Homo sapiens: one gene and its partners. The protein of the gene in region 1 interacts with the protein of each later gene in a pairwise test. Each region holds a gene or a part of one and is shown in the gene's direction. Other genes may lie near its edges.

Region 1 (3,500 bases):
TCAGATTAAGACAGGCAGTGCTGCAGAAGGAGGCTGAATTTAAAACTAAGGGTCTGAATACTGGCTCTCATAAGTATTTACTGCTACATGATCTTGAACAATTTCTTTAAAAATTTTTAAAATTATTAATTGAGATGAGGATCTCTCTGTTGCCCAGGCTGGCCTCAAACTCCTGGCCTCAAATGATCTTCCTGACTCAGTCTCCAAAAGTGTTGGGATTACAGGCTTGAGCCACTGTGCCCAGCTTTGAATGATATTTTAACTTCTCCAGGTCTCAGTTTCTTTATCTCTAAAAGGGGAATAAAAATAGCTGCCACAAATGGCTGTGTCTTTTTTTTTTTTTTTTTTTTGAGATGGAGTCTTGCTCTGTCGCCCAGGCTGGAGTGCAGTTTCATGATCTCGGCTCGCTGCAACCTCCACCTCCCAGGTTCTAGCGATTCTCCTGCCTCAGCTTCCCAAGTAGCTGGGATTACAGGGGCCCGCCACCATGCCCAGCTAATTTTTGTATTTTTAGTAGAGACAGGGTTTCACCATGTTGGCCAGGCTGGTCTCGAACTCCTGACTTCGTGATCCACCCATGTTGGCCTCCCAAGTTCTGTGATTATAGGCGTGAGCCACCGCGCTGGGCCTGGCTGTGTCTTTTTAAAAAGAATTAAATAAGACTGTATGAAAAGTACCTGGCACAAAGAAAAGGTATCTGTTTTCCCTTTACCTCTTCCTCTCTTTCCTTTTTTCACTTTCCTTCCCTCTTTATCTGCTATTAGCCTCTTGATTTTGTAAAATTTACTTAACTCCTCAAAGATTTATTTCCTCACCTATAAAAATGAGTAGGTTAGTTATTTGGTTTCTAAGACCCTTTCCACTCTATAATTCTAAGATTCAACAATTTAATAACTTAGTTTTTCTTCGTATCATAAAAATGCAACTTATTGAGGGGTGATTTTAAGTTAGTGTGGTTAAGTTGCTTTTCCCCCCAGAAGATTCCATCACATAGATCTTGGTTTAGATGCATCTGAGTTATATAGGAATGAAAACTTTATTCAATATGCAAATAGTTTTAATATGTAAATAGCAACAATATATATTGCCTGTATCTACTTGTAATCTCCTATTTCAAAAGATTTACTTCTCTTTCCCTTTTGCCTATTTAGGTACTACTCAGGAAGTCTGGAGGCTAAGTCAACACATCATGAAACTCTAGGACTAATTCACACTGCAACAAAGGGGCTGATTAGAGCTTTTGAAGATGGGGGGATAGATTCTGTGATGGAATGGGAAGTGGATGAAGTGCTGAACTGGACAAATACACTGAACTTTGATGAGTAAGTACATGTTGCTATTCTTGGGGAACAAGGGCAGTCATCATAGTTTTTTTCTAACATTTCCTATTTCCTTGTTGAATCTTGGGGCCACAAACAATCTTCAAAGAAAAAAAAAACCCGAGTATCTATTATTTGTCTAGAAAGAACAGAAGAAGACATGAGGGGTAAGAAAATGAATGATCCAAAAATAGTAAACAGAAAATTAGACTTAGGACTCTTTATTCTTAGACTTTATTCTTATGCTTTAGTCTGCTTTGCTTCTTACTTTGGGATTTAGAAAAAAGGCTAAGAGCATGAAATTAATAATACAAAGGTTTTCTTTCATCTATATTCCCTAACCTTTCTGTATGAGACACTAAAATGTTATAAGTTTTCAGTGATGTACTATGGCCCTTAGAAAACATTTTTAAGATTTCTTGTGTGGGGGAAATTTTAGAATATTTAATGTAGCCCCATTAAGGAAATGCAATCAAAACCATAATGAGATACCACTTCACACCTACTAGGATAGCTATAATTAAAAAGACAGATAATAACAAGTGTTTGCAAGAATGTGGAGAAATTGGAACTCATACACTGCTAGTGGGAATGTGCAATGGTGCAGCCACTTTGGAAAACAATCTGGCAGTTCCTCAAGTGGTTAAACATAGAGCTGACATGTGATCCAGCAGCTCCACTCCTAGATATATACCCAAGAGAAGGGGAAATACATGTCTACACAAAAACCTGTGCATAAATGTTCATAGCAGCATTATCATAATAGCAAAAAAGCAGAAGACACCCCAAATGTCCATGAGCTGACGAATGGCTAAATGAAATATGATAGATCTATCCAATAGAATATTATTCCACAATAAAAATTAGTGGGCTGGGCATGGTGGCTCATGCCTGTAATCCCAGCACTTTGGGAGACCAAGCAGATTACTTGAGCCCAGGATTTTGAGACTAGTCTGGGCAACATAGCGAGACCCCATCTCTACAAAAAATCAATAATTATCCCAGGCCTGCTGGTGCATAACTGTAGTCCCAGCTACTCAGGAGGCTGAGGTAAGAGGTTCTCTTGAGCCAGGACGTAGATGCTGTAGTGAGCCATGATCACACCACTGTACTCCAGTCTGGGTGACAGAGCGAGACACACACACACACACACAAAAAGCCAAGTGTAGTGGCTCACGCCTGTAATCCCAGCATTTTTGGAGGCAGAGATGGGAGGATTGCTTGAGCCTAGGAATTTGAGACCAGCCTGGGAAACATAGTGAGACAGCGCCTCTATTTAAAAAAAAAGAAAGAAATTAAGTTCTGATCTATGCCATAACATTGATGAATCTGCTAAGTGAAAGAAGCCAATCACAAAGGATCATGTGTTATTTTATTTATAGGAAATACCCAGAATAGGCAAACCTATAGAGACAGAAAATAGATTAGTGGTTTCCTGGGGGTGGAGAATTAACTGGGGGGAGGGGGTGGTGGTGGCTATGGGGTGCAGGGTCTCTTTCTGAGGCAATGAAAATAATTGAAAATTCATTGTGGGCCAGGCGTGGTGGCTCACGCCTGTAATCCCAGCTCTTTGGGAGGTCAAGGCGGGTGGACTGTTTGAGGTCCCGAGTTCAAGACCAGCCTGATCAACATGGTGAAACCCTGTCTCTACTAAAAATACAAAAATTAGTCAGGCCTGGTGGCGGGCACCTGTAATCCCAGCTATCAGGAGGCTGAGGCAGGAGAATCACTTGAATCTGGGAAGTGGAGGTTGCAGTGAGCTGAGATCGTGCCATTGCACTCCAGCCTGGGCAACGAGTGAAACTCCGTCTCAAAAAAAAGAAAAGAAAATTCATTATGGTGGTGGAGCCACAACTCTGCTAATATTATACTAAAAGCCACTGGATACTATACTTTAAATGGGGGAATTGTATGGCATATGAATTATATACCTCAATAAAGCTGCTTAAAATGTTCAATATTTACTCAACTACAATAAAGAATGTGGATACTGCATGAAGAGGCAGAAAAATTTAAATGAAGATAGTGTAAGTAAAGAAATGTAAGAAAACAGAAGAAATCAGTAAAAGTGAGATAAGAAAATGGGGTAGGAAAAATCAAGTTAATGGTCATTGAACAATAGAACATGAAAAAAAGAAGCCAGAGGAAGCAGGGGAGAGAATAATGATGCAAGGAAAGATA
Region 2 (3,477 bases), on another chromosome or scaffold:
ACAAAGAATCCTTTCGGCTCTCATTCACTCCATGACTTTGGTTCATTTCATCATTTCAAGGGAGAAGTCAAAGCCAGGGACCAAACAGAAATGTAGAATCATCTAAGGACAGCTGTCAGACCATTTTCCCCACTGTCTTCACTGGCTGGCCAGAAAAATAGCTTCACCTAGCACAGTGTTGATGTTCAATAACTGTTGAATGAAGGTTGGAAGGGCTTTGCCCTGAGCACTGAGGAGAGAGAGCTGGTTGCGTGGGACTTGAAGTCTGTCTCAGTTTCTTTAGGTGGGACTGATGCCCTTGGCCTTCCTCCAGGGAAGGCATCCAGCATCCAGAGGTAAGGATTCTCCTGTGGACCTTGTGACCTCTGACTCCTCCCCCTTCTTCCCCCAGAGTTCAAGGAGGCCTTCTCCCTCTTTGACAAGGATGGAGATGGCACTATCACCACCAAGGAGTTGGGGACAGTGATGAGATCCCTGGGACAGAACCCCACTGAAGCAGAGCTGCAGGATATGATCAATGAGGTGGATGCAGATGGTGAGCCCCACAGAGCGCGTGGGCAGCCCTGCTCCTGGTCACCCCGAGTGACTGCAGGGAGCCTCTCTCAGGGTGATGGATGAGCCCGTGTCTCTCAGGGCCCAGGCCAAGAGCATTCTCCATCCTTTCCCCACCTTCCAGGGAACGGGACCATTGACTTCCCGGAGTTCCTGACCATGATGGCCAGAAAGATGAAGGACACAGACAGTGAGGAGGAGATCCGAGAGGCGTTCCGTGTCTTTGACAAGGTAAGCAGCCCTCTCCAGGGGCGGCTCTGAGACTGACGCCAGCCTTCAGGCAGACAGGCGGAACTGGAGCCACGGAGCTACCACTTCCAGGAGGTCCGGGTCCCGGTGCCAGCCTCATTGCCAACCTGCTCTGCCACCTCAGGCAGCCTCCCTCACTGTGCTCACTGCTGAGGGATGGTGATGACAGCCACCCCTCTCACTGCCTCTCTCCCCACCGGGAGAAGTGCCCAGTGAAAGGCTTTATCCCCAACCCCCAGGATGGGAATGGCTACATCAGCGCCGCAGAGCTGCGTCACGTAATGACGAACCTGGGGGAGAAGCTGACCGATGAGGAGGTGGATGAGATGATCAGGGAGGCTGACATCGATGGAGATGGCCAGGTCAATTATGAAGGTGAGTCAAGGCCAGGCTTGATCTCTGGAACAAGAAGAGAATCGCAGCTTCAGGAACAAGCCCCCAGATCCCTCTTGTTGGGGAGGGCCGCTCGCCACTTAGCCTGCCCGCCTGACCTCCTCTCTCTCTGCTTCACTCCACAGAGTTTGTACAGATGATGACTGCAAAGTGAAGGCCCCCCGGGCAGCTGGCGATGCCCGTTCTCTTGATCTCTCTCTTCTCGCGCGCGCACTCTCTCTTCAACACTCCCCTGCGTACCCCGGTTCTAGCAAACACCAATTGATTGACTGAGAATCTGATAAAGCAACAAAAGATTTGTCCCAAGCTGCATGATTGCTCTTTCTCCTTCTTCCCTGAGTCTCTCTCCATGCCCCTCATCTCTTCCTTTTGCCCTCGCCTCTTCCATCCATGTCTTCCAAGGCCTGATGCATTCATAAGTTGAAGCCCTCCCCAGATCCCCTTGGGGAGCCTCTGCCCTCCTCCAGCCCGGATGGCTCTCCTCCATTTTGGTTTGTTTCCTCTTGTTTGTCATCTTATTTTGGGTGCTGGGGTGGCTGCCAGCCCTGTCCCGGGACCTGCTGGGAGGGACAAGAGGCCCTCCCCCAGGCAGAAGAGCATGCCCTTTGCCGTTGCATGCAACCAGCCCTGTGATTCCACGTGCAGATCCCAGCAGCCTGTTGGGGCAGGGGTGCCAAGAGAGGCATTCCAGAAGGACTGAGGGGGCGTTGAGGAATTGTGGCGTTGACTGGATGTGGCCCAGGAGGGGGTCGAGGGGGCCAACTCACAGAAGGGGACTGACAGTGGGCAACACTCACATCCCACTGGCTGCTGTTCTGAAACCATCTGATTGGCTTTCTGAGGTTTGGCTGGGTGGGGACTGCTCATTTGGCCACTCTGCAAATTGGACTTGCCCGCGTTCCTGAAGCGCTCTCGAGCTGTTCTGTAAATACCTGGTGCTAACATCCCATGCCGCTCCCTCCTCACGATGCACCCACCGCCCTGAGGGCCCGTCCTAGGAATGGATGTGGGGATGGTCGCTTTGTAATGTGCTGGTTCTCTTTTTTTTTCTTTCCCCTCTATGGCCCTTAAGACTTTCATTTTGTTCAGAACCATGCTGGGCTAGCTAAAGGGTGGGGAGAGGGAAGATGGGCCCCACCACGCTCTCAAGAGAACGCACCTGCAATAAAACAGTCTTGTCGGCCAGCTGCCCAGGGGACGGCAGCTACAGCAGCCTCTGCGTCCTGGTCCGCCAGCACCTCCCGCTTCTCCGTGGTGACTTGGCGCCGCTTCCTCACATCTGTGCTCCGTGCCCTCTTCCCTGCCTCTTCCCTCGCCCACCTGCCTGCCCCCATACTCCCCCAGCGGAGAGCATGATCCGTGCCCTTGCTTCTGACTTTCGCCTCTGGGACAAGTAAGTCAATGTGGGCAGTTCAGTCGTCTGGGTTTTTTCCCCTTTTCTGTTCATTTCATCTGGCTCCCCCCACCACCTCCCCACCCCACCCCCCACCCCCTGCTTCCCCTCACTGCCCAGGTCGATCAAGTGGCTTTTCCTGGGACCTGCCCAGCTTTGAGAATCTCTTCTCATCCACCCTCTGGCACCCAGCCTCTGAGGGAAGGAGGGATGGGGCATAGTGGGAGACCCAGCCAAGAGCTGAGGGTAAGGGCAGGTAGGCGTGAGGCTGTGGACATTTTCGGAATGTTTTGGTTTTGTTTTTTTTAAACCGGGCAATATTGTGTTCAGTTCAAGCTGTGAAGAAAAATATATATCAATGTTTTCCAATAAAATACAGTGACTACCTGATTTGGCTCCTCTCCTCCTGTCTCAGTTTCTGGCCTGCCCCCCTCCAACACACATACACACCAACCCCAGCACTGACTCCTTTGGCCCAGAGGTGGAAGAGCCTCTCCTCAAAGCTGGCTCTGAAGCTGTGTCCAGTCAGTGCAGCCCAGTGGACGCCTCTGAACCACAGTTCTGATCCCAGCTAGATCGCAGGGTCATCAACGGCAGGGTCCTGTCCTAGAGATAGTCGCACAAATGGACTGAAAGGCGGGGACTGAGAAGGCTCCTCTGAGGCAGGCCCATCATGCCATGGGAGCACACAGAGAAGGGGTCAGCCCAGTCAGGTGGCAGGACTGAGCTGAGACCTACCTGAAAGATGGGCAGTCCCCTAGCCGGGTAGGGGAAGGACGGAAGGGCATTCCAGTTCGGGGGGACGACATGTATGGAAGCCCTGAGGCAAGAGAAGCCCAGACATCAAGGAACTGAAGGAAATCCAGCGAGACTGGGTGAGAGCCCCGAGC
Region 3 (3,500 bases), on another chromosome or scaffold:
GTATTTGGAAATCTGGGGTAGAGATTGGAAAAGTACTTTTGAGAACCACAGGTACAAGACTCTCCAAGCATGCTCCTGCTTCTTACCATAAAAGCCCCAACGCCTCCGCTGATGTGCCTGTGTACTTAACCTGTGGGGCTTAATGGGCTTAACATGTTCTTCTCTACCAGCCCAAGCCAGTTCACTTGTTTTAAAGTGGACAGCCTGTACTCAGTTGTGTGATGGAAATGGGGCATATTAAACAGGAGGGGTCTGGGACTGCTCTCTGTTCCATGCTGTTCATCTTGGACCTGCCTCAGGCTTACTTCTTCACAATTTGAGGAACTGCTCAGCAAGAGCACACCCTATTGTTGACATGTTTTTCTTTTCTCTCCGGAACCTGCGAGTGTACGATGGCATTAGTGGAATCCCTCTGAGCCTGTGTGCCAAGGAAAATGCTAATGTGCTGATCCACAATGATGTGTGGCTCAGTGTGAACTACGTAGTAAATTTGTGAGTGACAGAGTAAAGGGGCAAGAGGCTGGAGGAGATGAGTATAACCATCTTTCATTCACTTAGACTTCCTGAATGAAGCCGTTCATACTGAGTTTTGAGCAATGAGAGGATTTTGGAAGTTCTGTTTTTAATAAATGGCTCCAACTCTTCTAGTACTTACTAATTGTATTAAGGTGAACCTTTGGGACATAGGTTTCCATATGCTTAATGGGAAATACTTTGTCCCTTTTCCCCCAAGACTGGCTTGACCTCACGTCAAGACCTCACGTCAAAGCTTTTGGGCCATGACCTGTTTCCTTTGTGGTTCCAGAAATCTGGGGGCGGGGGGAAGAAAAGAGAGAGACCTACCATAAAAGTTAATAGGACAGGCTGGGCCCAGTGGCTCACGCCTGTAATCCCAGCACTTTGGGAGGCCGAGGCAGGAGGATCACAAGGTCAGGAGATCGAGACCATCATGGCCAACATGGTGAAACCCCATCTCTACTAAAAACACAAAAAAAATTAGCTGGGTGTGGCAGCACACACCTGTAGTCCCAGCTACCCGGGAGGCTGAGGCAGGAGAATCGCTTGAACCCAGGAGGTGGAGGTTGCAGTGAGCCAAGATCGCACCACTGTACTCCAGCCTGGCAACAGAGCAAGACTCCGTCTCAAAAAAAAAAAAAAAAAAAAAAGTTAAAGGACAGAGATTCTGATCTGCCCTCTTTGACCAGACCCACCCCTTCTCCTTTCTCAAAGACTTTAAGGAGAAGACTTCAGGTTCTCATGACTGTTAGCTTTATTTTGGGGATGTAGAAAATAGAGATTCACTTTGAATTTTCAAAATGCACATCCCCATCTTTGTTTCTAATTTTAGAAGAGAGGTCAGTAAGTAGACAGATTTGTGTAGAAGATAGAGAATTGGAATATGCTTCTCTTTTGCCTATTTGAGGGAATGCTCTTGAGAATCACTGGATTAGAGACTGTAGAACAATGGTTCTTACTCTTTGAGTCAGAGGTCCTTTTAAGAGTTTAATGAAAATCCTGGTTCTTTCCTCAGGAAAATTCAGGAGCACAAAAATATGCGTATTCTGTTAGAGGATTTATGGGACTTCTGAAACTCATGGATCCTGGGTTTTAAAGTCCTGATGTGGAAGGCCAGGCCTCCAAGCCACAGCATCTCTTTTCATTACAAGTCCACAAACTGCTAAGAGATTTAAGTTTCCAGCCTGCAGTTTGTCCTTATGGCTTGGAACAAAGCTGAGGTTGTTGGCATTGTCAGCTCCCTCTTTGGGATGCTCCTCAGCTTCCCAAAAGACTCATTATAAGTGCCTTGAGAGTTCAGCTCAGGAACTTAACACACATTCGAACCGGCATTTCGGCCACTTTGGGGGAATTTTTGGTATTATCTCAACTCTACTGCTCTTCATATGAAATGCAGATGCCCCTGAAGCTCCAGAGCTGATTCCGTAGGAGTGTTTGAAATAGTAGCTCACATAGTAGATTATCAAAACTAAACAAAATAATTTGCTTCTGTATGTCTCTCAAAAATAGGTTGGATTTCAATGTAGTACTTCTCAAACTATTATATTTTAAGGACTGACCTGATATTTGAATTTTACTCATCATTTGACTTTTCTAGATGGAATATGTTGAGGGCAAAGACCGTATCTCACACATATTTATATAGTACCTGGCACATAATACTGTCAATAAATGCTTATTGAATAAAATAATGTGAGATAATCATTCCTTGGAGAAAGTAAGTTGGACTTATGTGGTGGCTTTGACTCACTTTCCCTTTCAGTTGGCTGGGGTGATTTTTCTAACTTAGAGCCCTCTCACATAGGTATAAGGAAGTACCAAGAACTGCAGGTGAGAAATTGATGAGAATTTCCAACTTAATAGATCCCTTTATAAAGCCAGAAATAGGAGGTCAGGGAGAAGACATCTGAATATATGCCTCCAGCTTCTTAGCCCAGTGGCAGTGGGCATAGGGATATCCTTAGACAATAATGGGGAAGGTAACTTGAATTTCTCACCATTGAAACAACTTTTAAACCCTTAGCATTAGGGAGACTCTGTCCAAAGTTGAAACTGGTATCCTGGTTTATACATGCTCTTGATTTAAAGAACAGGGAGGCTTTCACATAGGGTATTTGAGGTTTGGGGATTAGCGATGAGTTGAATAGTTTGATTTTGGAAAGTACATTGGAACTCTGAAAGTAATAAACAACAGCTCCGTCCGGCAGTGATGAGCAAACTTCTGGTTCTTACTCTGCAACCCTGGCTGCCCCTTCTGAGTCAAAGGCTGAGTTTGATGCTCAAAAGCTATACATGCCCTTCTCTCTTTGAAACACACCTTCTTTAGAATTACAGTCTTCTGGGAACTGGGCCAATGCTTATCCTAGCCAGAAGCTCAGGCTCTAGTTGGCACTACATTTTGTGTGTTCTGTTTCACTTCAAGTGTATAACTTAGGCAAGATTCAGGGGAAAAGGAGACCTTCAGAATTTTGCTATTTTGTGTTGTTTGTTTGTTTGTTTGAGATGGATTTTTGCTCTTGTCGCCCAGGCTGGAGTGTGATGGCACGATCTCGGCTCACTGCAATCTCCACCTCCCGGGTTCAAACAGTTCTCCTGCCTCAGCCTCCCAAGTAGCTGGGATTACAGGCATGTGCCACCACACCTGGCTAAATTTTTTTTGGTGTTTTTTTTGTTTTTGTTTTTGTTTTTAGTAGAGATGGGATTTCATCATGTTGGTTAGGGTGGTCTCGAACTCCTGACCTCAGGTGATCCACCCGCCATGGCCTCCCAAAGTGTTGGGATTACAGGCATGAGCCACTGCACCCGGCAAATTTTGCTATTTTGGAAGTTGAAATAGGTGCTTCCTAGAGATAGCAGATGTATCCAGTTGCTTTGGTAACTAATTCAGTTTCTTATGGGTGGCCAGGTGGTATCCCACTTATTATTCAATACTTGAGGGTTCAGTGCCCAGCTTCTGAGCACCAGCTTTCTTAGCAAGCAAGACA

Evidence for each region. The genes of interacting proteins can lie anywhere in the genome.
Region 2: the proteins of C11orf65 (region 1) and CALM3 interact in binary tests that used the Homo sapiens proteins (3 or more experiments, as listed by UniProt).
Region 3: the proteins of C11orf65 (region 1) and AHCYL1 interact in binary tests that used the Homo sapiens proteins (3 or more experiments, as listed by UniProt).

Annotation. Positions count from the first base shown.
Region 1 is NC_000011.10:108,391,030-108,394,529, reverse strand, and holds part of C11orf65 (protein MFI), read left to right. Parts: intron 1-1,151; coding exon 1,152-1,322; intron 1,323-3,500. UniProt on the Homo sapiens protein: Acts as an inhibitor of mitochondrial fission. Interacts with MFF and prevents DNM1L recruitment to mitochondria, promoting a more fused mitochondrial network.
Region 2 is NC_000019.10:46,607,806-46,611,282, forward strand, and holds the end of CALM3 (calmodulin-3), read left to right. Parts: intron 1-18; exon of another isoform or gene 19-391; coding exon 392-535; exon of another isoform or gene 536-676; coding exon 677-783; exon of another isoform or gene 784-1,040; coding exon 1,041-1,176; exon of another isoform or gene 1,177-1,200; intron 1,201-1,292; exon of another isoform or gene 1,293-1,319; coding exon 1,320-1,348; 3' UTR 1,349-2,977; downstream 2,978-3,477. UniProt on the Homo sapiens protein: Calmodulin acts as part of a calcium signal transduction pathway by mediating the control of a large number of enzymes, ion channels, aquaporins and other proteins through calcium-binding. Calcium-binding is required for the activation of calmodulin.
Region 3 is NC_000001.11:109,991,265-109,994,764, forward strand, and holds part of AHCYL1 (S-adenosylhomocysteine hydrolase-like protein 1), read left to right. Parts: intron 1-3,500. UniProt on the Homo sapiens protein: Multifaceted cellular regulator which coordinates several essential cellular functions including regulation of epithelial HCO3(-) and fluid secretion, mRNA processing and DNA replication.